7 linked regions of the Homo sapiens genome follow. The protein of the gene in region 2 purifies or fractionates together with the protein of the main gene of each other region. This does not show direct contact. Each region holds a gene or a part of one and is shown on either strand. Other genes may lie near its edges.

The links.
Region 1: the proteins of CTDP1 (region 2) and NCAPD3 purify together in Homo sapiens (affinity purification with mass spectrometry; one large-scale study listed by BioGRID and IntAct). This does not show direct contact.
Region 3: the proteins of CTDP1 (region 2) and DIAPH1 purify together in Homo sapiens (affinity purification with mass spectrometry; one large-scale study listed by BioGRID and IntAct). This does not show direct contact.
Region 4: the proteins of CTDP1 (region 2) and UACA purify together in Homo sapiens (affinity purification with mass spectrometry; one large-scale study listed by BioGRID and IntAct). This does not show direct contact.
Region 5: the proteins of CTDP1 (region 2) and DIAPH2 purify together in Homo sapiens (affinity purification with mass spectrometry; one large-scale study listed by BioGRID and IntAct). This does not show direct contact.
Region 6: the proteins of CTDP1 (region 2) and TTC27 purify together in Homo sapiens (affinity purification with mass spectrometry; one large-scale study listed by BioGRID and IntAct). This does not show direct contact.
Region 7: the proteins of CTDP1 (region 2) and BTAF1 purify together in Homo sapiens (affinity purification with mass spectrometry; one large-scale study listed by BioGRID and IntAct). This does not show direct contact.

The regions. Positions count from the first base shown.
Region 1 is NC_000011.10:134,221,168-134,225,331, reverse strand, and holds the start of NCAPD3 (condensin-2 complex subunit D3), read left to right. Parts: upstream 1-1,364; 5' UTR 1,365-1,405; coding exon 1,406-1,469; intron 1,470-4,164. Other genes in the region: VPS26B (vacuolar protein sorting-associated protein 26B), read right to left, coding at 1-209.
Region 2 is NC_000018.10:79,749,303-79,752,802, reverse strand, and holds part of CTDP1 (RNA polymerase II subunit A C-terminal domain phosphatase), read right to left. Parts: intron 1-3,500. UniProt on the Homo sapiens protein: Processively dephosphorylates 'Ser-2' and 'Ser-5' of the heptad repeats YSPTSPS in the C-terminal domain of the largest RNA polymerase II subunit. This promotes the activity of RNA polymerase II.
Region 3 is NC_000005.10:141,525,001-141,528,500, reverse strand, and holds part of DIAPH1 (protein diaphanous homolog 1), read left to right. Parts: coding exon 1-48; intron 49-803; coding exon 804-928; intron 929-2,039; coding exon 2,040-2,204; intron 2,205-2,327; coding exon 2,328-2,463; intron 2,464-3,500. UniProt on the Homo sapiens protein: Actin nucleation and elongation factor required for the assembly of F-actin structures, such as actin cables and stress fibers. Binds to the barbed end of the actin filament and slows down actin polymerization and depolymerization.
Region 4 is NC_000015.10:70,666,059-70,669,558, reverse strand, and holds part of UACA (uveal autoantigen with coiled-coil domains and ankyrin repeats), read left to right. Parts: intron 1-96; coding exon 97-2,835; intron 2,836-3,500. UniProt on the Homo sapiens protein: Regulates APAF1 expression and plays an important role in the regulation of stress-induced apoptosis. Promotes apoptosis by regulating three pathways, apoptosome up-regulation, LGALS3/galectin-3 down-regulation and NF-kappa-B inactivation.
Region 5 is NC_000023.11:96,691,342-96,694,841, forward strand, and holds part of DIAPH2 (protein diaphanous homolog 2), read left to right. Parts: intron 1-3,500. UniProt on the Homo sapiens protein: Could be involved in oogenesis. Involved in the regulation of endosome dynamics.
Region 6 is NC_000002.12:32,816,550-32,820,049, forward strand, and holds part of TTC27 (tetratricopeptide repeat protein 27), read left to right. Parts: intron 1-907; coding exon 908-1,008; intron 1,009-3,500.
Region 7 is NC_000010.11:92,028,270-92,031,769, reverse strand, and holds the end of BTAF1 (TATA-binding protein-associated factor 172), read right to left. Parts: intron 2,981-3,500; coding exon 2,837-2,980; 3' UTR 333-2,836; downstream 1-332. UniProt on the Homo sapiens protein: Regulates transcription in association with TATA binding protein (TBP). Removes TBP from the TATA box in an ATP-dependent manner.

The sequences.
Region 1 (4,164 bases), on a different chromosome or scaffold from region 2:
AACTCGATCTTGATGCCCTGGTGCTCCAGCCGCTTGTTGGGGTTCTTGAGGGCAAGGCTCACCTTCCCGGAGACCGTCTCCCCGTCGTAGAAGAGGAAATATTTCTCCTTCTTCCCGTCCTCCGTCTTGTGCTCGGCCCGCTTCCTACTCTCTGCATCGTTCAGAAGGATTTCCACCTCCACGCTCTGCCCGAAGCCGAAGAAGCTCATCGCACCGCCGGGCCGGGCGGGTCTCGGTAAGGACCGCTCCCTCGCACCGGGGCGCGGGCTGCCCTAGGTAAAGAAGGCCAGAGGGCCCGATGCGCGAGCGCGCTCGGCCGCCGCGGGGCTGCCTGGCTCCGCCGCTGCCGCCGGGCAGTGGGCGCCGACGGACAGCCGGCTCCACGGGGGAGGGGCACGGCCGGGGGAGGCTGGCGGCTGCGGGCTGCGGCGCCCGAGCAGCAATGCACCGAGGAGCAGTGCCCTCGGCCGAGCCAGTCCCAGCCAGTCCCGCGGCCGGTGGCAGTGGGCGGGCGAGGGTCGGCCGTGCAATGCTGCGGGGGGCAGCCGCACAGAGCCGGGTGTGGGTGGCCTGCGCCTGCCGGGTGGGGTCCAGCGCCGAGCAGCGCTGCGAGCTGCCCAGCCTCCGGCGGTGCAACGCACCGAGGCGCTTCGGCGGCTCCGGGCGGGGGAGGGGGCGGGCGAGCTCCAGCCCGGATGCGCTGGAGCAGCGGCGCGCAGGCGCACCCCCTAACGCTCCTGGGACTCCCGGCAGCCCGGAGGAGAGCTCGCTGCGCATGCGCAGGGAGAGCGCGGCCGGCGCTCCAGCGGTCGGCATGGCAGCTGCTACCTCGCTGGGACAGGCTCTGGGCCCACGCGTGCCGCGCAGTCCCTACAGAACTGCAGTTGTCTTGTCTTCTCGGAGTGCTTTCGGCTACTTTTCCCTTATTACTTTAGCTCGATACACGTTGGGCTGCCTTTCACATTCGGATATTACGCTGTTCGAGTGCTGACGGGAAAGGCAGCCCTTTGACACGCACGCGAAATGTCGCCTGACGAGGGCAAAGGTGACAGTTACTACCGGAAGTACCCTATCTCAGATACCCTTTAGATTTTCCCCCATTGAAGAAAAACGAGGCGGGAAAAACGCTGTTAGGGTTTAACTCAGGCCCTGGCTCCTTCTCGAACGAATTAGCGGAACACCCGCAGGAGCCTTGTTTGGCTTCCACTTTTCGGCCCGCCCAGTTCTCTGAGCGTGCGGCGGACGACGCCGGTGATTGGTTGAGCGAATGGAAACGGCTCGGCGCGGTGGTTGGCCAGTGGGAAATTCTGTACGTTGTGATTGGTCCACAGGAACGACTCGGCGCGCGCGCGGGAGCGAGCTTTGAAAGTTGAGCACGGCGGCGGCGAGCCGGTGCCCTGGGATCATGGTGGCGTTGCGGGGCCTTGGTAGCGGCCTGCAGCCCTGGTGTCCGCTGGATCTTAGACTCGGTGAGCAGATGCAGCCGGGAGGCCCGGGGGCCAGGGCGAGGGTCCTATGCGTCCCCGACGATGCCTAAGCCCGGGCCGGGGTGCCGGTGGGGGCGGGGTGGGGGCGCCCGGCTGTCGGCGGTGCCTGGGGTCCCCAGGGCCGTGCCACGCCAGGATTGCGGCTAGCCAGGTTTCCCGTGGGGGCTCAAGCCGGCCAGGCCACCCTTAGAATAAGCGAATGTTGGCCAGTCTCTTCTAGCGCCTGTGCATCTGTTTTCTCGGCCTTCCCCTTCTTCCTGTGCGTGTCTTCGTGCACCTATCTATTCTTACCTATTAAGATGGTTTTAAATTGCAAATCTCTTTCTTCCGCCAGACTTATTTCTTGAACTTCATGTTCATAGGTTCCACTGGATGTCTCACATGCAGACATCATCAAACGTCACATGAGTGAAAATGGGATTCCCAAAGCCTGCTAATGGCACCATCCAAGCCACCAACCCAGGAGTCATGGCATTTCTGCTTCCCCTTTCATGCCCACTACCACTGTCCTGCCTCTGAGGTGTCTCAGGGCAGCCCCGCTCCATTCCTGATGCTGCTGCCTTCATCATAGCCTCGAGCAATTGCAGGAGTATTTTAGCTGCTTTCTGATGTTAACTGTGCCAGCCCATCCCCCACACTTTTGCAGAACGACTTTTGAAAACACAGCTTTGAATGTGTCAAGCCTGTACACCTTTAATGTTTCCCCTTTGTTTCCTAAATAAATGACCACATCCTTGGCATGCTTTATAAGAGCTGCCATTCTCTCCAGTTTGATTTTCCAAGAGCATAACCTTTGGAGTCGGACACACTTGGATTGTTCCCTTGGCTCTACCCCATAGCATCCATGTATTACCGTGCAGGTTGTTTATCCTTGCTAAACCCCTGTTTTCTGATCTGTCAAATGGGGAGTACAATATCTACCTCACAGGGGTTTTTGTAAAGATAAATTTGTACTTGCCACATAATAACTGCTGAACAGATACTAATACCCACAAGCAAACACTGTAACAATTTTGTTCATTTAGAAACACTTTAATTTCTTTCCCTTTGTGTGCTTTGTTACACTGTGCTTGCTGGGAGGCACTTTTCTGCATTTATTTGCCTGGCAAAACTCTTACATTCAGGTCCAATTGAAGAATCATCTTATTCCTCTCCCTCCTCCCCCAGTACTATTCCCTATTAAGCTCTGTAGCATTTTACATTTTACATATCTATTATTTTAACACTCATCCATAGCAAAAATAATAAATACCATCTATTGACTGTTTTTTATGTGGCTAGCACATTGTTAGGGCCTTTATACACATTATGTTTCACAAAAATCCTGTATTTCCAATGATGAAGGAGAGACTAATTATGTGTAAGTGATCAAGTCAGGATATTTGCCTCGTTCTGACTCAAAATTCAGTGGCCTCTCTTCTATCATAGGCTGCTTTTTTTGGTATCCTAAGTGTGAAATGTTGAGATCTTTGTGGACAAGAACCCTCTAGTATTCATCTTTATATCCCTAGAAGTATAAGTGGCTTCCCTAGTATTTTCTCAAAGTGTTTGTTGAGTGAATAGGTGATGTATTTCTTCCTCTTCTTCCATCCTAAGTGAAGTAGCAGAGCAGAAGTTACCTGCATTCGACAGCTGAGAAAATAGGTAGTGAGAGATTTGAATAGTGTAAAGATACTGAGGGAAAAAGACTAACTCAGTGTCTCCTATACTCTCACTCAACAATCAACACTGAAGACTTCTGTGACCAAATGGTAGATAACAGGGCCAGTTACTGCCATCCAAATTAGATTTGATGGTATTTACAGTAGGGAACTGTCATAAGCAAAACCAAAAGAAGGAGTGAGATAACTTTTGCTGTGGTCTATAATGACCTTTAAAACATTACTGGAAATTTGGAAAGAAACAATTGTATTTTTCAGATCTTCTTTCAGGCAGCATATTCCATGTCTTTGGAAGGAATGCTGTGCATAGCCACTTAGGGTACAGAGACCCCCTCCTTCAGGGTCAAGTTCAAGTGACAAAAGATGATGACCAGATTGTATTCTAAGGATGGAACTAGTTGAGTGTAAGGCCTTTCATTTTCATTTGCCGAGTGCAGTGTAATGCTCCCATCTCTGTTTTTTCCTTATTTATACCTTGCCCAACTTCTCTAAATCAGTGGTGAACAAATACTTTTAATATTAATTTGAAGGAACACCTGATTAATAATTTGAGATGTCCACATTTCCATCTAGTCCTAATTTTAGTTTGGGAAAGTGACAATGACAACACTGAAGAAATATAGTGTATTAGAAAAGAATGGGAAGGGGGGATGGAGGGATAGGGGAGGGATACCATTAGGAGAAATACCTAATGTAGATGACGGGTTGATGGGTACAGCAAACCACCATGGTACGTGTATACCTATGTAACAAACCTGCATGTTGTGCACATGTACCCAAAAACTTTAAGTTAAAAAAAAAAGTTTATCCAAAAAAAAAAGAAAAAGAAAAGAATGGGAAGATTTAGAGTTAAGAGAGATTGGTGGAATCCAGCCAGCGTGCTGTCTTAATACCCCTCCTCTCAATGTACATTCTTTCAATCAGTGTGTTTTAAAGTCACCAAGTATTCCTGGGAGTCTGAATCTGGGTTGCCTCTTCTATTTTAAACTTCCTGGAGAAATTATATATGTTTTTTA
Region 2 (3,500 bases):
TCTGCATAACCAGCCGGTGCCACTAGGCTTTCCTTAGGAGCCTCTGCATAACCAGCGGGTGCCACTAGGCTTTCCTTAGGAGCCTCTGCATAACCAGCCGGTGCCACTAGGCTTTCCTTACGAGCCTCTGCATAACCAGCCGGTGCCACTAGGCTTTCCTTACGAGCCTCTGCATAACCAGCCGGTGCCACTAGGCTTTCCTTACGAGCCTCTGCATAACCAGCCGGTGCCACTAGGCTTTCCTTAGGAGCCTCTGCATAACCAGCCGGTGCCACTAGGCTTTCCTTACGAGCCTCTGCATAACCAGCCGGTGCCACTAGGCTTTCCTTAGGAGCCTCTGCATAACCAGCGGGTGCCACTAGGCTTTCCTTACGAGCCTCTGCATAACCAGCCGGTGCCACTAGGCTTTCCTTACGAGCCTCTGCATAACCAGCGGGTGCCACTAGGCTTTCCTTAGGAGCCTCTGCATAACCAGCCGGTGCCACTAGGCTTTCCTTAGGAGCCTCTGCATAACCAGCCGGTGCCACTAGGCTTTCCTTAGGAGCCTCTGCATAACCAGCCGGTGCCACTAGGCTTTCCTTACGAGCCTCTGCATAACCAGCCAGTGCCACTAGGTTTTCCTTAGGAGCCGCTGCAGGTGCACCTGGTTTCTGTGACGTGAGCCGACTTGATCGGGGCACACCCAGGAGATCCCCAGAGCCCTGAAATTCCAACCACCTGATGTCCTGCCAGACACCCTCCCTCCTGGTGCCGTGCTGGGACGTCCCACTGCGCCAAGGAACCTCAGCTACAACCTTAGAGGTGGAAGCCTGGTTAAATGTGCACAGCCTGTTTTGATTTTACCCTGATTAGGGGCAACTGAGCCATACTAGCCTTCAGTTACAATCCCGAAAAGTCACTGAGAGAAACTAGGGACAGTCACCATATGTGAGTACCCTAAGAATATTTTCTTAGCTAACGTAGATACAATGTAGCTAACATACACACCTATGTGACACATTATGTGTGATACAGCCACACACACACACAGCAGGCATATAACACACATGCACTCGAGGCTCACACACAAACTATAGCACGGTAATGTGATACACCTGCACGCACACACAGCACGCATGTAACACACATGCACTCGAGGCTAATATACACAAACTATAGCGCAGAAATAACTTGAAACCATTCTTGCTGGTATTAGAAGAATCACAGTTCATTTATAAGAGACAAAAGGAATAAAATCAGCTGATCAGATGGAACCAACAGAAGACAAGAGAACCCCGTGGGCTGGCACACACAGCCGATCAGTCACGACAAGCTCGTTCAGAGAACCCAACTGTTCGTGGTCCAGGAAATACCGCATGAGAGAAACACAAGGGCCCCAGAACTCCAAGTCCTGTCCAGGTGGCAGGCACTGGGCCGTAGGATGACAGCCCCTCCCCCGCTCCCTCCTTCCCTCCTGGACCTGCCTCTGTGCCCAGCCCCTCCCTCCCTGGCCTGCCCTCTGTGTGCCCAGCCCCTCCTTCCCTGGCCTGCCCTGTGTGCCCAGCCTCCCTCCCTCCCCGGCCTGTCCTCTGCGCCCAGCCCCTCCCTCCCTAGCCTGTCTTCTGTGCCCAGCCCCTCCCTCCCAAGCCTGCCCTCTGTACCCAGCCCCTCCCTCCCCGGCCTGCCTCTGAGTCCAGCCCCTCCCTCCCTGGCCTGCCCTCTGTGTGCCCAGCCTCCCTCCCTCCCTGACCTGCCCTCTGTGTGCCCAGCCTCCCTCCCTCCCTGACCTGCCCTCGGCGCCCAGTGCCTCCTTCCCCAGCCTGTCCTCTGTGCCCAGCCCCTCCCTCCCAAGCCTGCCCTCTGTACCCAGCCCCTCCCTCCCCGGCCTGCCTCTGAGTCCAGCCCGCTCTGTAAGATGGGAACTGCCATCTTTCATCACATACTGGGACCCCTGGATCCATGAGATCCTTTCTTAAAAAGCAATGCATCCCATCATTTAAAAGCGGAGTAGGCAGGGCGTGGCGGCTCACACCTGTAATACCAGCACTTTGGGAGGCCAAGTCAGGCGGATCACCTGAGGTCAGGAGTTCAAGACCAGCCTGACCAACATGGTGAAACCCCATCTCCACATTAAAAAAAAAAAAAAAAAAAAAAAGCAAAAAATTAGCCAGGTGTGGTGGTGGGCACCTGTAGTCCCAGCTACTCGGGAAGCCGGGGCACGAGAATTGTTTGAACCCGGGAGGCGGAAGTTGCAGTGAGCTGAGATCACGCCACTGCACTCCAGCCTGGGTGACAGAGCGAGACTCTGTCTCGGGGGGGAAAAAAAAAGGCAGAGTAGCGGGAAGTGCACGCCCTAATACCTGCCGTCCAAGTTTTAAACGAATTTATTTTTATGTCAACTGGAATGAATATTTTCTACTGAGAAATAAAGGCTTACTTTTAATTGCTACATGAGAGTGAGGGGTTGCAAATTAGCTGGGAGTGTCGGTGCATGCCTGGAGTCCCAGCTATTTGGGAGGCTGAGGAAAAAGGATCCTCTGAGCCCAGGAAATGGAGGCTGCAGTGAGCCTGGGCCATGACCGCAACACTGCACTCCAGCCTGGGCGACAGAGCAAGACCCTGTCTTAAAAAAAAAAAATCTCCGCGCACCTTTTCTGTGCACCTGCTTCCCCTCTGCACACCTCGTCTGCAGATCTTGTGCCCGTGCCTGTGTTGGGCTGGGCACCGCCCGCTTCCCCTCCATGCCTCATCTGCAGATCTTGTGCCCGTGCCTGTGTTGGGCTGGGCACCGCCTGCTGTTTGCTTTGAGGACGCCAGGCGTATCATACACGAGTTTCCTTTATTTCCAGTCTCTGCTGACACTAACGACGCTGTCAGGGCCACGAGTCTGGCCTCCGGTTGCTACAGCAACAAGCTTTTGGCAATTAACAAATTCATCAGTCATCTCTTTTCCTCCGCATACACGCTGACGGCTGTTCCGGGAAAACCCGGCTCCCATCCTCCCATTAGGCTTCCTCCACCTCACTCCGTTTTGAGAACTTGAAACAAAACAAGACAGAGACAGTTCTCGTAAACGTGAAGGTGCTGCCGTGAGGGGTGTCCCGAACCCCTGGAAGAGCTCAACCCACTGGCAGGTGGACGGGACAGGAGACCCTTGCGAACAGAGGCGGTGTTTCAGGCCCCCAGAGCAGTGCATGGCGCTGACCTCGGGGAGGGGGCAGTCATGACTGTGAACAGGAGAGCCGAAGTGCCCTCTCAGGTCGAGCTCGGGACGGTCACCAAGTCCAGGAGGGGGCGGGCCTGGATCTCGTGTGCACGGGGCGCGACCCTCACAGTCTGGTGCCCGGCTCCCTGCCTGTGTGCTGATGCCTTGCTCAAGGGAGCCCTGGCCCCTCCTAGTGGGGCCAGACTCGGGGGTGCTGGCAGGTGTGGTTGACTCCCTCACAGCGACGCTGGGTTGGACGTATCAGGGGCACTGAGCAGAGCAGGGGCAGGGGCAGGGGCCCCGACCGAAAGTGAAG
Region 3 (3,500 bases), on a different chromosome or scaffold from region 2:
TCCTCAAGTTTCCAGACGAGCTTGCCCATGTGGAGAAAGCCAGCCGAGGTGGGGCAGTTTGGAATGAAGCTAGAGCCCAAAAGTCTCTGCATGGGGAGGGAAATAAGACACAGTCTAGATGTGAGAGCATTTTCAGTTCAGACTATTTCAAGTGGAAATGAGATAGGATTTAGGCATGGTGCCTAAGTCACAAGGGCAGAGCGTATGGCTGAGGAGAGATCTTTATGTGTAGAAATAGGAAGCACTCTTTCTCTTCCTAAGGAAACACCAAACACCAAAAAACAGCTAGAAAGGCAGGTGTTTTTAGTCTAGGTTAATAGTTCTTTTCATTAAGAAAACATAGACTACATTAACAAAAATTAGGCCTCACTGTCCTGGAACTAGACAAAGAAAAAGCAGCATTCACTGGAAATTGGAACAGATTTCTGCCCCCGCCTCTATATTTCTATGTATATCTCCTTCCTCCCAAACCCTGTTCTCTAAAATAAATGAGACCAAGATCTCAGGGGATTTCATAGATTCATGTTAAATTAAATGAAGTCTCTCTTCTGTTCCTAGTACTGCATACCTTGTGAAGGCTGGAGGTTCAATGATCAAATAATTTATAGTTTCACTGGAAAGATGAAAACTTAAGTATGTGACACAACTAAAGTACATAAGGAACTAAAATTATTAAGTACCAGAATGTGTGTATAGACTGAAGCTATGCTCTGAAAGGTGAAACTAAGGGGTGTTGAGGCTGGGATTATTAGTAAGCTCTTGCTGTCTGTTTTTATGGTTTTTTTTTTTTTTTTTTTTTTTAGTTTCTGCTGAAAACTTGCAAAAGAACCTAGATCAGATGAAGAAACAAATTTCTGATGTGGAACGTGATGTTCAGAATTTCCCAGCTGCCACAGATGAAAAAGACAAGTTTGTTGAAAAAATGACCATATCCTCTCTTGAAAGGAGGGAGTTGTTCCCTAGGAAGGGAAAGAAAACTTCCTGTAGTGGGGGAAAAACAGGATAGATAGGGCAGTATGCAATTTTTTTCTCTTAAAAAACTCTTTTTCTTTAAATACATAGTTTTTTGGGTTTGTTAGTATTTTGAGACAGGCTCTCTCTGTGTCACCCAGGCTGGAGTGCAGTGGTGCCATCACGCCTCACTGCAGCCTTGACCTCTTGGACTCAAACGATCCTTACCCCCTCAGCCTCCTTGGTAGCTGGGACTACAGGCATGTGCCACCAGGCCCTGCTAAACTTTTTGTAACCTTTTTTTCTTTAGAGATGGGGTCTCACTTTGTTGCCCAGGCTGCATAGTTCCTGAGAGCATTCCATTGTTGTGGAGTAGAAGCACACCATGCAGATCAACCATAAAAGTCCCACCAACTCCCCTGCCTGTACCCCGTCTCCACTACACACGCTCACACATGCTTCCCTCTCTTTCCCCTCCCCAGAGGTAACCACTGCCACTGGACTTTATTCTGATTTGCACCTCATACATTTATTTTAAACAAAAACTGCATTGTATTGTGTTTTGCACATATGTCTTGGCCATGTTTCCATAATAGTATTTATAGAAAACCTCCTTTTAGGTCAAGAGATGGAGACCATCCTGGTCAGCATGGTGAAACCCCATCTCTACTAAAAATACAAAAAAATCAGCTGGGCGTGATGGTGCGCGCCTGTAGTTCCAGCTACTTGGGAGGCTGAGGCAGGAGAATTGCTTGAACCCAGGAGGTGGAGGTTGCAATGAGCCAAGATCGCGCCACTGCACTCCTGCCCGGCGATAGAACAAAACCCTGTCTCAAACAAACAAACACAAACAAACAAACAAACAACAGTTTAAACTGCCACCTTCTTTTTTTATAGGTGTACCATAGTTCATGGTTTACTATTCCCCTATTTAGGGGTACCTACATGGCTTTGGTTTTTGCTGTTATAAACAGTGCTGTATTGAACATCCCTTTGCATGCCAGTACTCATCTTTGAGTAATTCCTTGGGCTAGAGAAGTGGGTCTGCTTCTTGGTCTTGGTCTTGGTCCTTTACTCCTTGGCTGCACAGCTTTGTGAAGGATGCACAGGAACAGTATAACAAGCTGCGGATGATGCATTCTAACATGGAGACCCTCTATAAGGAGCTGGGCGAGTACTTCCTCTTTGACCCCAAGAAGTTGTCTGTTGAAGAATTTTTCATGGATCTTCACAATTTTCGGAATATGTTTTTGGTGAGCAAGGGATACTTGCTGACTGAATCTTTTGTGGGCATTTCTCACTTTCCCCTGGGTTCCTGTTGGCTGGTAGTAGGTATACAATGCCCATGTGTTCCTTCCTCCTCTTCCCTGCCCCAGCAAGCAGTCAAGGAGAACCAGAAGCGGCGGGAGACAGAAGAAAAGATGAGGCGAGCAAAACTAGCCAAGGAGAAGGCAGAGAAGGAGCGGCTAGAGAAGCAGCAGAAGAGAGAGCAACTCATAGACATGAATGCAGGTGAGGAGTGAAGACGGGTTGATGGGCTGAGATAGGAATGTTGGGAAGACTTCTCTGCCTAGAGTCTAGAGGCAGAGTCTCATGTCTGAGCTCACCTCCTGGCAAATGATTTTTGGCAGTCTTCACTCCGAGATCCTGATGCCGGACTTTAACCCCAATTCTGATACATGCGCATTCCAACTTGCCCTGGTTAAACTATTACCTTTTCTCTCCTTTGCTCGCTCTTGCATTCTCTCTCATTCCCCTGTGATTGTGGTATTGCTGTGATATATACTGTTTTCCTTCTGTCCATCCAAAGGTTCCTCTGGCCTGTTCTCATTCCCTCCACTAAATCTTTCGGGTTTTTTTCTGTAAAATATTTTCCTGACGCTCCTCCCATCTTTTAATTGTGGCGTGTCTTCCCTTTCTGCTTATTTCACAAAGTACTATGTCCCTAGTACCTTAGCACAGTTGTATGCACAATTAGATTTTAAATGGATTGAACTTTTGGAGCGGGTGGGGAGCCGGTCACCCTCTTCTTTCTTCAGCAGAATCTCTGTTTCACTACCAGAAGCATGTCTTTGTTGAAACATATGGTTTCAATTACTGGCCCTCTGTTTCCTGTCTCTGCTTCTTTCTTGCTGCAGATTCCCTACCCCTTCGCCCCCACTGCTCTCTCTGTGGGCAGCGGAAATACAGCATACACTGCTCACACAGCACTGAGCCCATGCCACCCTCCTCTAAACCTGAGGGGCCACAAACCTTCTGCAAATGAAGAGGTGTTCACAGAGCTGCTGAGTTTGTTAGGAATCAGTATTTTACAGAGCACAGGCACAAGGGCTGCTCTGATACCTCTTGCTACCAGGGACTTTTTATACTTTTCTGTAAAGCAATTTCCTTGCCCTTAGTTGTAAGCCACAACTTCGTAATGCTATTAAAGCCCACACCAAGTATCCTTCACCTTCCCCTGGGACTCCAGGGTTTGTCCCCAGGTACTGGCTAGGATGCAGTGGGGGAAGGTGGAGTCCCGCTGACATGTGGGATGAGGGCTGCACACG
Region 4 (3,500 bases), on a different chromosome or scaffold from region 2:
TGATGATGTGCTAACTTTCTCTAAGTTTGGCAAATAAGTATAGTAAATGTCTCATTTAGGCTTTTGTGATTGATGTCTTTTTTTTTTTCTTTTCAGTGTACTTCCCCAGGTATACCAGCCCATATGCAAAGCAGATCTATGTTAAGACCTCTGGAACTATCTTTACCCAGTCAAACGTCATACTCTGAAAATGAAATTTTAAAGAAAGAGTTAGAAGCAATGCGAACTTTCTGTGAGTCAGCAAAACAAGACCGACTGAAGCTCCAAAATGAACTGGCACACAAAGTGGCAGAATGCAAAGCTTTAGCATTAGAATGTGAAAGGGTCAAGGAGGATTCAGATGAACAGATAAAGCAATTAGAAGATGCATTAAAAGATGTGCAGAAGAGGATGTATGAGTCAGAAGGTAAAGTTAAACAAATGCAGACCCATTTTCTTGCCCTTAAAGAACACTTAACAAGTGAAGCAGCCTCAGGGAATCACAGACTAACCGAGGAACTGAAGGATCAGTTGAAAGACTTGAAAGTAAAATATGAAGGTGCTTCAGCAGAAGTGGGGAAATTAAGAAACCAAATCAAACAAAATGAGATGATAGTAGAAGAGTTTAAGAGGGATGAAGGCAAGCTGATAGAAGAAAATAAGCGATTACAGAAGGAACTTAGTATGTGTGAAATGGAGCGAGAGAAGAAAGGAAGAAAGGTCACAGAGATGGAAGGCCAGGCAAAAGAATTGTCAGCGAAGTTGGCCCTTTCCATTCCAGCTGAAAAATTTGAAAACATGAAGAGCTCATTATCAAATGAAGTGAATGAGAAAGCAAAAAAATTAGTAGAAATGGAAAGAGAACATGAAAAATCACTTAGTGAAATTAGACAGTTAAAGAGAGAACTTGAGAATGTTAAGGCCAAGCTTGCTCAGCACGTCAAACCAGAGGAACATGAACAGGTTAAGAGCAGATTAGAACAGAAATCAGGAGAACTTGGGAAGAAGATCACTGAGTTAACATTGAAAAATCAGACACTACAAAAGGAAATTGAAAAAGTTTATTTGGATAATAAGCTCCTCAAGGAGCAAGCACATAACTTAACAATTGAAATGAAAAATCATTATGTTCCTTTAAAAGTAAGTGAAGACATGAAAAAGTCACATGATGCAATTATTGATGATCTTAATAGAAAGCTTTTAGATGTAACACAAAAATATACAGAAAAGAAGTTGGAAATGGAGAAATTGCTACTGGAAAATGACAGCTTAAGTAAGGATGTAAGCCGCCTAGAAACTGTGTTTGTACCTCCTGAGAAACATGAAAAAGAGATAATAGCTCTGAAATCCAATATTGTTGAACTTAAGAAACAGCTGTCTGAACTTAAGAAAAAATGTGGTGAAGACCAGGAGAAAATACACGCTCTCACATCTGAAAACACTAACTTGAAGAAGATGATGAGTAATCAGTATGTGCCAGTTAAAACCCATGAAGAGGTTAAAATGACACTGAATGACACGTTAGCCAAAACTAACAGAGAATTATTAGATGTGAAGAAAAAATTTGAAGATATAAATCAGGAATTTGTAAAAATAAAAGATAAGAATGAAATATTAAAAAGAAACCTGGAAAACACTCAGAACCAAATAAAAGCTGAGTACATCAGCCTGGCAGAGCACGAGGCAAAGATGAGCTCGCTAAGTCAGAGCATGAGAAAGGTGCAGGATAGTAATGCTGAAATCTTGGCCAACTACAGAAAAGGCCAAGAAGAGATTGTGACACTGCATGCCGAAATTAAAGCCCAGAAGAAGGAGCTCGACACAATACAAGAATGCATTAAGGTAAAATACGCCCCAATTGTCAGCTTTGAGGAGTGCGAGAGAAAATTTAAAGCAACAGAGAAAGAACTAAAAGACCAGTTATCAGAGCAGACACAAAAGTATAGTGTCAGTGAAGAAGAAGTCAAGAAAAACAAGCAAGAGAATGACAAGTTAAAGAAGGAGATTTTTACCCTTCAGAAAGATTTGAGAGATAAGACAGTTCTCATTGAGAAGTCTCATGAAATGGAAAGAGCATTAAGCAGAAAAACAGACGAGCTAAACAAACAGTTAAAAGACTTGTCACAGAAATACACGGAAGTAAAGAATGTGAAAGAGAAGCTAGTAGAAGAAAATGCCAAACAGACTTCTGAGATACTTGCAGTGCAAAATCTTTTGCAAAAACAACATGTTCCATTGGAACAGGTTGAGGCTCTGAAAAAATCTCTTAATGGCACAATTGAAAATCTAAAGGAAGAACTGAAGAGTATGCAAAGGTGTTACGAGAAAGAGCAGCAGACAGTGACCAAACTGCATCAATTGTTGGAGAATCAAAAGAACTCTTCTGTACCCCTGGCAGAGCATTTGCAGATTAAAGAAGCATTTGAGAAAGAAGTTGGAATCATAAAAGCCAGCTTGAGAGAAAAGGAAGAAGAAAGCCAAAACAAAATGGAAGAAGTCTCCAAACTTCAGTCGGAGGTTCAGAATACTAAACAAGCATTAAAAAAATTAGAGACTAGAGAGGTAGTTGACTTGTCTAAATATAAAGCAACAAAAAGTGATTTGGAGACACAGATTTCTAGCTTAAATGAAAAATTGGCCAATCTGAATAGAAAGTATGAGGAAGTATGTGAGGAAGTTTTGCATGCCAAAAAGAAGGAAATATCTGCAAAAGATGAGAAGGAATTACTGCATTTCAGCATTGAGCAAGAAATTAAGGATCAGAAGGAACGATGTGATAAGTCCTTAACAACAATCACAGAGTTACAAAGAAGAATACAAGAATCTGCTAAACAAATAGAAGCAAAAGATAATAAGGTAGGTACAAAGTAGTCTGCACGGCTATGTGTTGGAAACCCCAGAGCAGTGCTCTTTACCACAGAATCTCACAGGAAAGTAGACACAGGTATTAACAAAGTGACCCTTTCCAGTTTAGCAACTTGCGTGCAAAAATTCCGAATTGAAAAAAAAAGTGAAGTAACACAAAAGTCAAAAGCATTTTTCCTTCTGTTTCTTTAGCTGTTCTAGCCAAGAATTCAGGAACGATGGGGAGACTTAAGGCTCACTTGTCTCATACATGAAGAGTCAAAAGCCAGTGGGTTTGTGGCATATGAAAGATGGGGAAGAGGGTGGTGGGGAAGCTCTCTTTCTGGGCTGCAAGAAACCAAGAACACTGGGGAGCATCTAGAGTTGATCTCGGTACTCACCCATAGTAGTAAACTGAGCCCTCCAATTCATTTTATGTTCTGTTGCTCATGTCTTTCTACAGACTAGAAAGTCTACATCCCCTCACCCAGAATGTCCTTTCCCTCCTTTCTACTGAGTTGAATCCTATACATTCATTAACATGTTATCCTCCTTCTTAAAGCCCTCACTGTCCAATCTAGTCTATAGTAAACAGTTCCTCCTCTAAGGTGGATGTTTTACTGTGGCTTTGCCATCCATTTAAAACATTTATATTACCTTGTTAGAATTATGTAGTT
Region 5 (3,500 bases), on a different chromosome or scaffold from region 2:
AGCTTGATATCCAAGTGGGCATGTTGTGGAAGACACCCATTGTGGGATACAGCTCAAAACTGATGCATTTAAAGAAAGATTAAGATATATTTTCACATAGCTATTTATTGTGAATGTCAGTAATGGAGAGAAATTAACTCATACTGATTTAAAACTTATTTTCCTCATCAGGTTGAGTCTGTTTCCAAATAATATACTCTGGCTGTAGCTTAAACAGACAACTGAATTCTGGTATTTAACTGACTTTGTGTGAGGTTACCTGGCAGGGAAAGGTATTGGTCCCTTTCTCATGAAAGAATGTAGAAAACAAAATTCTTACTTATCACCATTTGCACAGTCTTTGGTTTACTGAAGATTTTACTGTATTGCTTTAAGGAGAGTAAGCTACATTGCTACAAATACATACCAGCATATTGGCCACCAGCTGTATACAGTGTGGCCTATGAATGAGTGAGAAGCTTCTAGGTAGCTATTAAGGCAGGCCTAGGTAGGAATCCAACACTTTATTAGGAAGGAATTATTCCGAAATGGCTGTTGACTCAATCACCTGGCAGTTCTGGCACTCACCCAAGGGAGAAGAGATTTTGGGTACAATCCTTTTTAAAAAATCTATTTGTTGTTCTGTGATATCATAGACATCCAGGCTTTAAAAAGAAAGATCTGCTCAAAATTAAGAGGAATTTTAACCTACCCTTAATTCGTTGGTCTGTTATTAAGCTAAAAGTAAAAGAAATAAACTTTTAAACTTCATAATATGAGCCAGTTAATGAGACTTTTTTACAAAACTTAAACAAATTTTCAAACGTGCTAAAAAGTAGAATAGTACAATGAACCACCACCATCTATCCATTGCCCAGATATAAGTTATCTACATTTTGCAACATTTGCTTGATCCATCCTTTATTTTTCCCTTGCTAAAGTATTTTAGTGCAAATCTCAGATATCTTGTCATTTTACTCCTACATACTGTCACGTCTTTAAAAATTAAAATTAACATATTCCTTGGTATCATCCAGCATTCATTCCATAATCAAATATTACCAATTGCCTAAAAAAATTAGATTTTTGATCTAAGGTGTACCTAATTGATATACATGTCACTGAACTCCTTAAACAAATACAGCTTTAAATTACTGGTAAAATCTTATTCAGAGTTACTCCACATAAAGTGCTATCATAAAGCCTCAGCCCAAATTAAGTTCACTTCTGTCTTTAATTCTGTAGAAGTATCTGGAAAGGTTGACTATACAAGGGTGGATAGACTCCTTGGAACAGCTGTTATGTACCATCAAAAATAGAACAAATTAGTTTTGGCTTTACTCACTGGTTGGGCAATCACTAATTCTTCATTTTGCAATTTGTGAAGTGGGGTGGGGCTTATGTGTAAGAATTTTCCTTTCAGGGAAATGCTGTAGATAGTTAGGCAAAGGAAAATTATTCTTCATTTCTCTAGATAAAGCGTTCATATGACTCTTTGACATTCACACCCCACCACAACAACTAAGTTTATGTTACTGGCTCTAGTTTTATTTCAAAACAAATGCCGGTTTGGTCTATCTTTGTTTTTCAGCCCCTTTGATATAGTCTAGGTTGCTGAATCTGGATAATTGGGTGAGTAAACCTTTACATAGAAGTTATTCTTATTGAGATGTTTGTGGGCTTACAATTGAAAATCAGACTACACTAATGAGGTGATGGAGCTGGGGATGGGTGGAGTAGGTAAATATGAGAAATCAACTTGGGCAAATGGCCTAGACTCCACACAGATTTGCTAAAGAAATTGTGTAACTATTACTTTCCAGACAGCAGTTTAGTGCTGTTATTGTGCTGAGAGGCAATAGGCAAATAATTTCACTAGCTGTAGACTCAAGTAGATTTAGGCTAGTAATCTGTCTCCACTCTGCAACTTCTAGACTGACCATTTACTAACCCAGTCAGTTGGGTAGTTTTCCTCAAAACAGATAGATGAGTGATAATTGTTGGAGCCAGAGAGCTGGCATTTTCTTCTTTTGTTTGGCCCGGGAGGGAAAACTATGGAGGTGGTGTTTTATGTGCTCTGAAATCAATCACTGATAAAGTCTTAAATGCTTAGTAGTCTATTGTGCTGGCTGAAACTGTTTACAAAGATTCTATATGTAGATAGGAAGACCTTGTATAGGCTGTACACTTGCATTGTGAGCTTTAATAATGTATACGTATAACAGAGACCAGGTCGGTATGTATGGGTGGGCCCTGACCAAGGGTGTGAGACCACAGAGGTCACACCACTTACCAAATCATGTGCCAGTTACAAGACTATGTCTTCCTGGGGCTGCGTTTTCTGATTCACACAGAGGCACCATATGGGCTAGCTAATACATTTAAAGCCAGATGGATTTTAGTCTCATACCTGATAAGAAATTCAGCAAGGATTCCGGGCATGGTGGCTCACGCCTGTAGTCCCAGGACTTTGGGAGGCTGAGGCGGGTGGATCACCTGAGGTCAGAAGTTTGAGACCAGCCTGGCCAACATGGTGAAACCCCATCTCTACTAAAAATACAAAAATTAGCTGTGCATGATGGGAGACGCCTGTAATCCCAGCTACTCGGGAGGCTGAGGCAGAAGAATTGCTTGAACCCAGAAGGCAGAGGTTGCAGTGAGCCAAGATTGCACCATTGTACTCTAGCATGGGCAACAAGAGTGAAACTTCATTTTGAGTAGGGATTTCTTATTTGTCATTGGTTCTGAGAAAAGAATGTAAGATGTATATTTATGTAATATCCTACACCTGATTACTTTTGCTTTTGAATTATTGAAATCTTCAAATGTAGATGGCTGTGCCCTTGAGGGCCTAGGTTATAGTTCAGTATGTTCATTATCTTCCCCAACTTAAGGGTTGAGTTCTGTTATAGCTAATTGTAGATCAATTAGCTTAAGGCTCCTCCCTTTCTGCACTCCTTTCAGCAATTTTCTTGACATAATTGTTTCACAGAGTTTTATATGGTTACGCATTATCTAGGCTGCATTTTTTTTTTTTTTAGATGGAGTCTCACTCTGTCACCCAGGCTGGAGTGCAGTGGCCTGATCTCTGCTTACTGCAACCTCCGCCTCCCGGGTTCAAGCGATTCTTCTGCCTCAGCCTCCCGAGTACCTGGGATTACAAGCATGCACCACCACGCCCAGCTAATTTTTGTATTTTTAGTAGAGATGGGGTTTCCCAATGTTTCCCAGGCTAGTCTCAAACTCCTGACCTCAAGTGATCCGCCCTCCTGGGCCTCCCAAAGTGCTGGGATTACAGGCATGAGCTACCGCGCCTGGCTGCATTGTTTTTTGAAGTTTGTACCATGCTTATTTCCACTTTCATTGCTCACGATACAGGGCAGAACATATAGAAAGTTAAGATGGGTTAAAACAAATTTGGCAGAAGCATTTCCTCTGATAATATGCTCTGCAATCTAGTACCTCACATTACAAAATCAACGTTTTTCAGAAGAGTCAGTGTGTACATAAAATATTTGTGA
Region 6 (3,500 bases), on a different chromosome or scaffold from region 2:
CTTCTACCAGGAAGAACGATGCCTTCTTCGTAGTTTCAGGTTTTGGGAAAATGAGTTCCCCAGAATGCTGGGAGCAGAGTTGTGATTCACTCTTGCCCATTCCCTGCTGATGCCAAGCCTTGCTCAGGAACTTAAGAACCTGGTTGTGGTCGCGTTCTCTACATGAAGACACATGGGTTGCTGTCAGTGCTTCCTGAATGGTGCTTCAAACCCTGATTATGAAAATGCAGTAAGAATTGAGCTGTACAGATCTGGCATGTCACTTCCTTGGGCTTGTGTCATCAGCAGTTGTGAAGTCCCCATTGGGGACTTGGTAGCATGGAAAGCCACACAAAGATGTGCTGCATCTGTTTTTGTCTGTGTGGGTACTTTGTTTTCAATAATATTTTGTCTCCTTGCCTAATTTTATTTGTCTATGCACATGTGTGCGTGTGTGTGCTCGAATGCATGCGTGTATATGTGTTTAGGGTCTCTTCCCAGTGATCCGTAACTCACCAAAAATCACCTGTTTTTCCCAAAATTCCCTGGAGCAGTAAATTACCATTCTTAAAGAAGGATAGAGAAAGGCCAGGTGCAATGGCTGACACCTGTAATCTCAGTGCTTTGGGAGGCTGCAGCAGGAGACTAGCTTGAGGCCAGTAGTTCAAGGCTGTATGCCACACCTCCAGACTGAGCGACAGGGTGAGACCCTGTATCTTAAAAAAAAAAAAGAAGAAGAAGAAGAAGAAGGATAAAGGGAAAAGCTATGTACATAATTATTATTCTTTTTCAACAATAAAAACTTTCCAGGTAGAAGTGTTTCTAAAGTATGTTACTATAAAAATTCTAATTAAATAATTGGCTTTTGTACCTGTGAATTATTATTAACACTTTTTAATGGATGTTTCTCTCCATACTTATCTTCCAGTGGCCATAAAATGCAGTAAAAACAAATCCAGTTCCCAAGAAGCTGTACAAATGCTTTCTTCTGTTCGACTCAATTTACGGGGCTTGTTATCTAAAGCAAAGGTGAGAGTGACATGTGAATTAATTGGAATTGTCATATAGAAAAAGGTCATTAGTATCAGCTTATTGCTGTTAAATCTTCTTTTACATCAGTGATAATTTTAGGCGCATGTTTTATTTAATATAGCAGCCCCCTCATGGTTGGTTGTGTTGTGAGGATACTATTGGCCTAATGGATAGACCACTCTAAATGTGTATGACTTAAGAGTCTTTGAAATTGTCTGGGTGCAGTGGCTCATGCCTGTAATCCCAGCACTTTGGGAGGCCAAGGCAGGCAGATCATTTGAGGTTGGGAGTTTGAGACCAGCCTGGCCAACATGGTGAAACCCCATCTCTACTAAAAAATACAGAAATTAGCTGGGCATGGTTGCGGGTGTCTGTAATCCCAGCCACTCAGGAGGCTGAGGCAGGAGAATCTCTTGAACCCGGGAGGCAGAGGTTGCAGTGAGCCGAAATTGCACCACTGCACTTCAGCCTGGGTGACAGAGTGAGATACCATGTCCCAAAAAAAAAAAAAGTCTTTGAAACTAATGTTTACAATTCAGCCCTTAATGCTTTCCTTAAATTAAAATAAAACAATGCTCTTGTATTTATTGTCATTTTCCCCCAAAGTGTGGCATATATGCTACTGGTAAACTTCTGGTTTAAATATATATTCATTTCAGTACATATTAGAAAAAAAGCAGACTAGCTCATCAAGCCTATAATTTCATGAATATTATTGCTTATTTTGTATTTAAAGTTGCAATGTAATGTTTCCTTTTAGAAAGACTCTTAAGTAAAAAAATTGACTTAGATAAAAATATTAAGTAGGTCGTATATGGATGTGAGCAAAATTGTTAAGGTAGATGGCTATTGAGGTTTGACAACTGAAATACGCCATTAGTTCACAAAAACTAACTTGTGTACCAGTGCTGGGCCAGAGATGCCTAAGAATCACTCAGGGAGCTTTATTGAAGACTGGATTGATTCTTGGGCTCTATCTGTGACCGATGTAGATTCAGGTCTGGGATGGACCCAGGAAATCTGTTGAATTTCCTATGTGATTTTACTCTGCAGCCAGGTTTGGATTATACCTCTGGAAGCAAAATTTGGACAAATATAACTTCTAGCACAATTTAGCACTTACTTTTCTAGCCTTTACTTGCTTTCACTATTGCATCTTGGGTTGCAAAGTAATTTTGACTTACTTCCGAGAGTAAGTCTCTGGCACAGGGAGGCCATTTCTGAATACCTTTTTACTCTGTAACCGCCTTTCTGAGTATTTTTTTGTTCTTATTAATGGTTTGATCTTTTCAGATCAAGGCATCATTTTTGCCTCTTTAAATAATTAACTTACTTCACTTTTCCTATTTATCTGCATGACCCAGGAGAACTATATTTCCTCCTAGCTTGGCAGCACAACTTCAAAATTGTGTCTCTCGGAAATCTATAAGAGCCCCCTCAAAGTCAGAGCAGCAGGGTTTTTTCCTGTGACTTTCCTTCCCAAAGTGGGAGCTTTGTTTCCTACTTTTGATCAGTGATCTAATCAAAGTAGTTTACTTCTACTACTACCACAGTAGTTTACTTCTTCAGGGTATACTGTGGCTTCCTTTTGTCTGTGCAAAGCTTTTTCTTACAAATTACTACTTTATGTAATCTATACTTGCATGACTTGAATAGTATTGTCTGTGCAGGTACTGCACACCTTCCCATATTATGGTAGATTCCCACATAATGAAAATGCGGCCCCAGAACATCATCTGTGTTTAGATTTTCATTCTCATTAGATGCCAACTGGATTATCCAAAAATGGGAAAAATTACCTCCCAGTGCCTCCTCTGAAGCATATTTCACATATATTTGGGAGTCTCTGGTTTCGTAGATCTTATGCCTTTTCTATTTAATGAATTAGGTTTGTCAAACTGAATTGCATTCCAAAAAAGTCACTTTTTTAGAATACTTTAAAAAGTGAAAATGAAGATTGAAAATGAATGAGGATAACTATGTTAAATTGCTTGCAGCCTATGTTAAATAGGCTTAATTGAATGAATCTCAGGTCTTTTCTTGCCAGGCCAGGGACTTCATGGAAATAAGCTCCTAGTACCTAGAGACTCACCTAACAAATCATCCAGTCCATGCTCTCCCAGGACAGAGTGACTCCCCTGCCCATTTGCACCCTGTCCTTGTACAGGTTTGCTGCCAAGAGTGGCATGAAGGGGCTGTTCATGAGAGTGCTGGAGAGCCTGGACACAGAACAGATTTGACCCCTTACAGTCTTTGGGACTCTCAGCAAATTATTCACTTTTTTCTAAGCCTCAGTTTCTCCGTGCTTCCTCCTTACCCCACAGGGAAGTGATGCCGATTGATTATGATTTGCAAGCACTGTAATTCTTAGTTTAAAAACGCACACACAAAAACCAAAAAAACTATGTGAGGCTAGGTTATTTTCCTAAAAGGTGTTTTCTCTGCTGATGACATTGGAGCAGTTCCTACTTCATTTTGTTATGAAATGC
Region 7 (3,500 bases), on a different chromosome or scaffold from region 2:
AGTAGCTGGGACAAGAAAAGCATGCCACTGTGCCTGGCTAATTTTTGTATTTTTTTTGTAGAGACAGGATCTCCCTATGTTGCCCAGGTTGGTCTTGAACTCCTGGGCTCAAGTGCTCCTCCTGCCTTGGCCTCTCATAGGCATAAGCCACCGTGCCCAGCCCAATTTCACTTTAGACTCCACTGGTGCCAGCATGGGAGGTCTGCAGGACATAGAAGATTCTATTAGGATTAAATATTTAGAACAGATGTGTGATGGAGTGCTTGTTACTTTTGTATAATTTCTATTATGTTCGAATTCCACTTTTGTCTATAAGTGATCACATTCTCAAATAGCTTCAGTGGAATATTTACTTTTGAATAAGTAAGTTCATATAAACCATCCAGAAGGAATAAGGCTATACCAGTTCAATCAGTCCCAACATCAAAGACTTTTACCCTTTCACTAGAATACTTTTTGGAGAAATGTTTGTAGAATAAATAAGCATATACAATAAGCATATATATGAGTGAATATATGAAACAAAAATTATACCCAGGCCCCCAAATGTTAAGATTTTCCTACAAGAAACCCAAATGATAAGACTAATAATCTCTGAATCTATATTTTTAACAGTTTGCTATTTCCTATCATAAAGACACAAAAACCAAGGGAAGTAGTACAATGGATATCTATGAACCCAATTCCCAGTTTAAAATAGTTAACATTCTATCATGCTTGTTTGACTTCCCACACCCATACATTGAAAAAACTACCAAATCATCACATCCATGAAATTGACAGCAGTTCTTTAATATCATTCATTACTCAGTTCAATTCTCCACATCTCTTCATTATTCTTAAGATGTACTACAATGACTGGGTCATTTAATTAAGAATACTTAGTTCTTACCTGTTTACATGTTTTCCTTTCTATGGAAAAGTTGGAATGTGTGATTTACTATTTTACAACTCAAAAGATTATTTTAAAAATGTTATAGCCACTCTAAGTTTTCCTGTCAGCTCTGACTCCTGTTTCCCATTCAGAAGCAACCACACATCATTTTTCTAGTCATCCTTCTAGAAATACACACCTTTTGATTAAACTCTCAGAAAGTTTAAACAGCCTAAATATCTGACTTCTAGCTCTATCTGACATTTCAGATTGGGAAAAAGTACTAACTTTTATGGTGTGATTTCTTTTGCCCCTTCATAGCCCTTTAATGATATATTGCTCTGTACTTATTCTAAGAAAATATCAATTACTATAAGCTATGTTAAAGAGCTGGTTTATGGAACTAGCAAATAAATAGTTAATAAAAAAATATTCAACTCAAATATACTGAAATGTTCTACATAAAGTTTTGAGTTAAAATCCTAAACAATGAAAAAAAACCTGTATACCTGAATAATCTTTTGCTCTTTCTAGTGACCATTTCCTACAAATAACACACAGTTGCATATATTTTACAGTTTCAATCTTATATTTATTCTCTTGTGGAATGCTAGGTTTAATGTTACAGTATGGTTGTCAAAGCTAATGAAATGTGACAAATGTCTAAATGCTGCAGAACAGTATAATTTTAATTAAACAAAACACCTGTTATTGTACAGCTGAGGTCTGATGGTTGTTAAACTGATGCCTATGTGTATGGCCAGCCACAAACCTTGGGGATGTTTATTACCTGTACATATATATACAAATATATCCCATACATATGTATGCACACAGGCATGTATTAATTTATGCGTGAAACTTATAAAATTATATATACAAACACATACATGCACATCTATCTACATATACCTACCCTCACCATTGAGTAATCAGCCTCATGCCCAATTATTATTGCTGCCCAGTATAACTACATGATTTTAGTGCCAATACCAGGCACCTTTTTGGGTGCAGGATAGGTACATCTATGCATATAGATATGCATATTCATGTATGTTTGTGTATATAAAGAAATTCTCTCTCCCTTTTATGCTTCAGCCATGCATTACTACAATAAACAGTCTTTCCACTGTAGGTGTTGGAATTCTAAACAGTGTAAAATCTATTTCTGGAAAACTGTGTATGTTCATAGTTACAAAAAATATATTATATATATGATTGAAACCTATTGAGTACATATGTTATTTGAATCTGGCTATATCGTAGCCATTAGATAAATTAAAAAAAACCACCCTCTAAATAGGATGTTATGGTAGCCTTAAATATACCATTACCTGTATTTAGAATAGTTGATATTATATCTTAAAAGTTGAAAAAATGATGTTAAAGATTTGAAAAACACTATGCATCTGCATTAAATATATAAATGTTTCCACCAAGGGCCCGATTAAATTCATTGTCTGACATTTTCATGTTCTAAGACTGACCAATATCATAGTCATTATTCTTATATTCTTAAAATTATGGCTCATTAAGGCTTTTATAGAAAAAAAGCCCTATTTTAAATCAATTATAAAAACAAGTTCTATTTAAAAGAAAAAACATATACAAACACTAAAGTACTCATGGATATCATCCTGTACAAAGTGACTAAAGATAGGAGGCCTGTTCCCATTAAGAACACCTCCTGGTAGCACAAATAAACCTGGTTTGGTTCCTCTGCTCTGCAGCTTTTCAGCATGTAAAATTTAAACCATTTCACATTAACATTTAAATTTAATACAGTGCAAATATTTGAGAATAACTTGTTTCCCCCAGTGAAACAAGAGCCAGCATTATGCTGAATATTCTCCAGATCTATTTACACATTGAGTTAAAAGTTCACCATAAACTTAGAAATTTGCTGAATATCAGCAGAAATGTAACTGAACTAGCAGCAATTGCATTTACAATATTTGATAGTTACTTGAGAGAATGCATAAAATTTTCCAGGCTGTACTCTGAATCATACTGCTCTTGATCCCAAAGATCACTCAGGTTTTCAAGAATTGATTTCATACTTGCTTTCCCAGAAGTAGAGGTGTCAGCTTTTTCTGCTTTGCCATCCTTAAGAAAAATTGGCAAAAAAAAAAAAAATAAAATGAGAGGTTAACTTCACAAATTGTATTTTCCTTTAAAATCACACTTGTTTCTAATACAATTATTCAACAGAATTGAGTACTTCAAGTGATGGGGAAATTCATGATCTCCAAATACATTTATTTGTCAGTTTTTTATTTGGAAAGAACTTCAAAATTATGGAAGAATTATAAGAACATAACAAAGAACTTATTTGCTTTATCATTCTCTCTCCCCATTTATATATGTGTATGTATATATGGATGTCAGAAATATAGTTAGATATCAGTTTTTTCTCTGAACAATTTGAAAGAAAGTTGTAGACATCATGTCCTTTTATCCTTTGAGAGGAATCAGCATGTATTCCTAAGAACAAGAATATTCTCTTACATAACCATATAAAGATCAGATTAAGGAAATCTAACACTGATATTAAAATGTTCTAATATACAGTCTGTTTTCAAATTCTGCCAATTGTCTAAATAGTGCCTTTTATGGCAATAGGCCA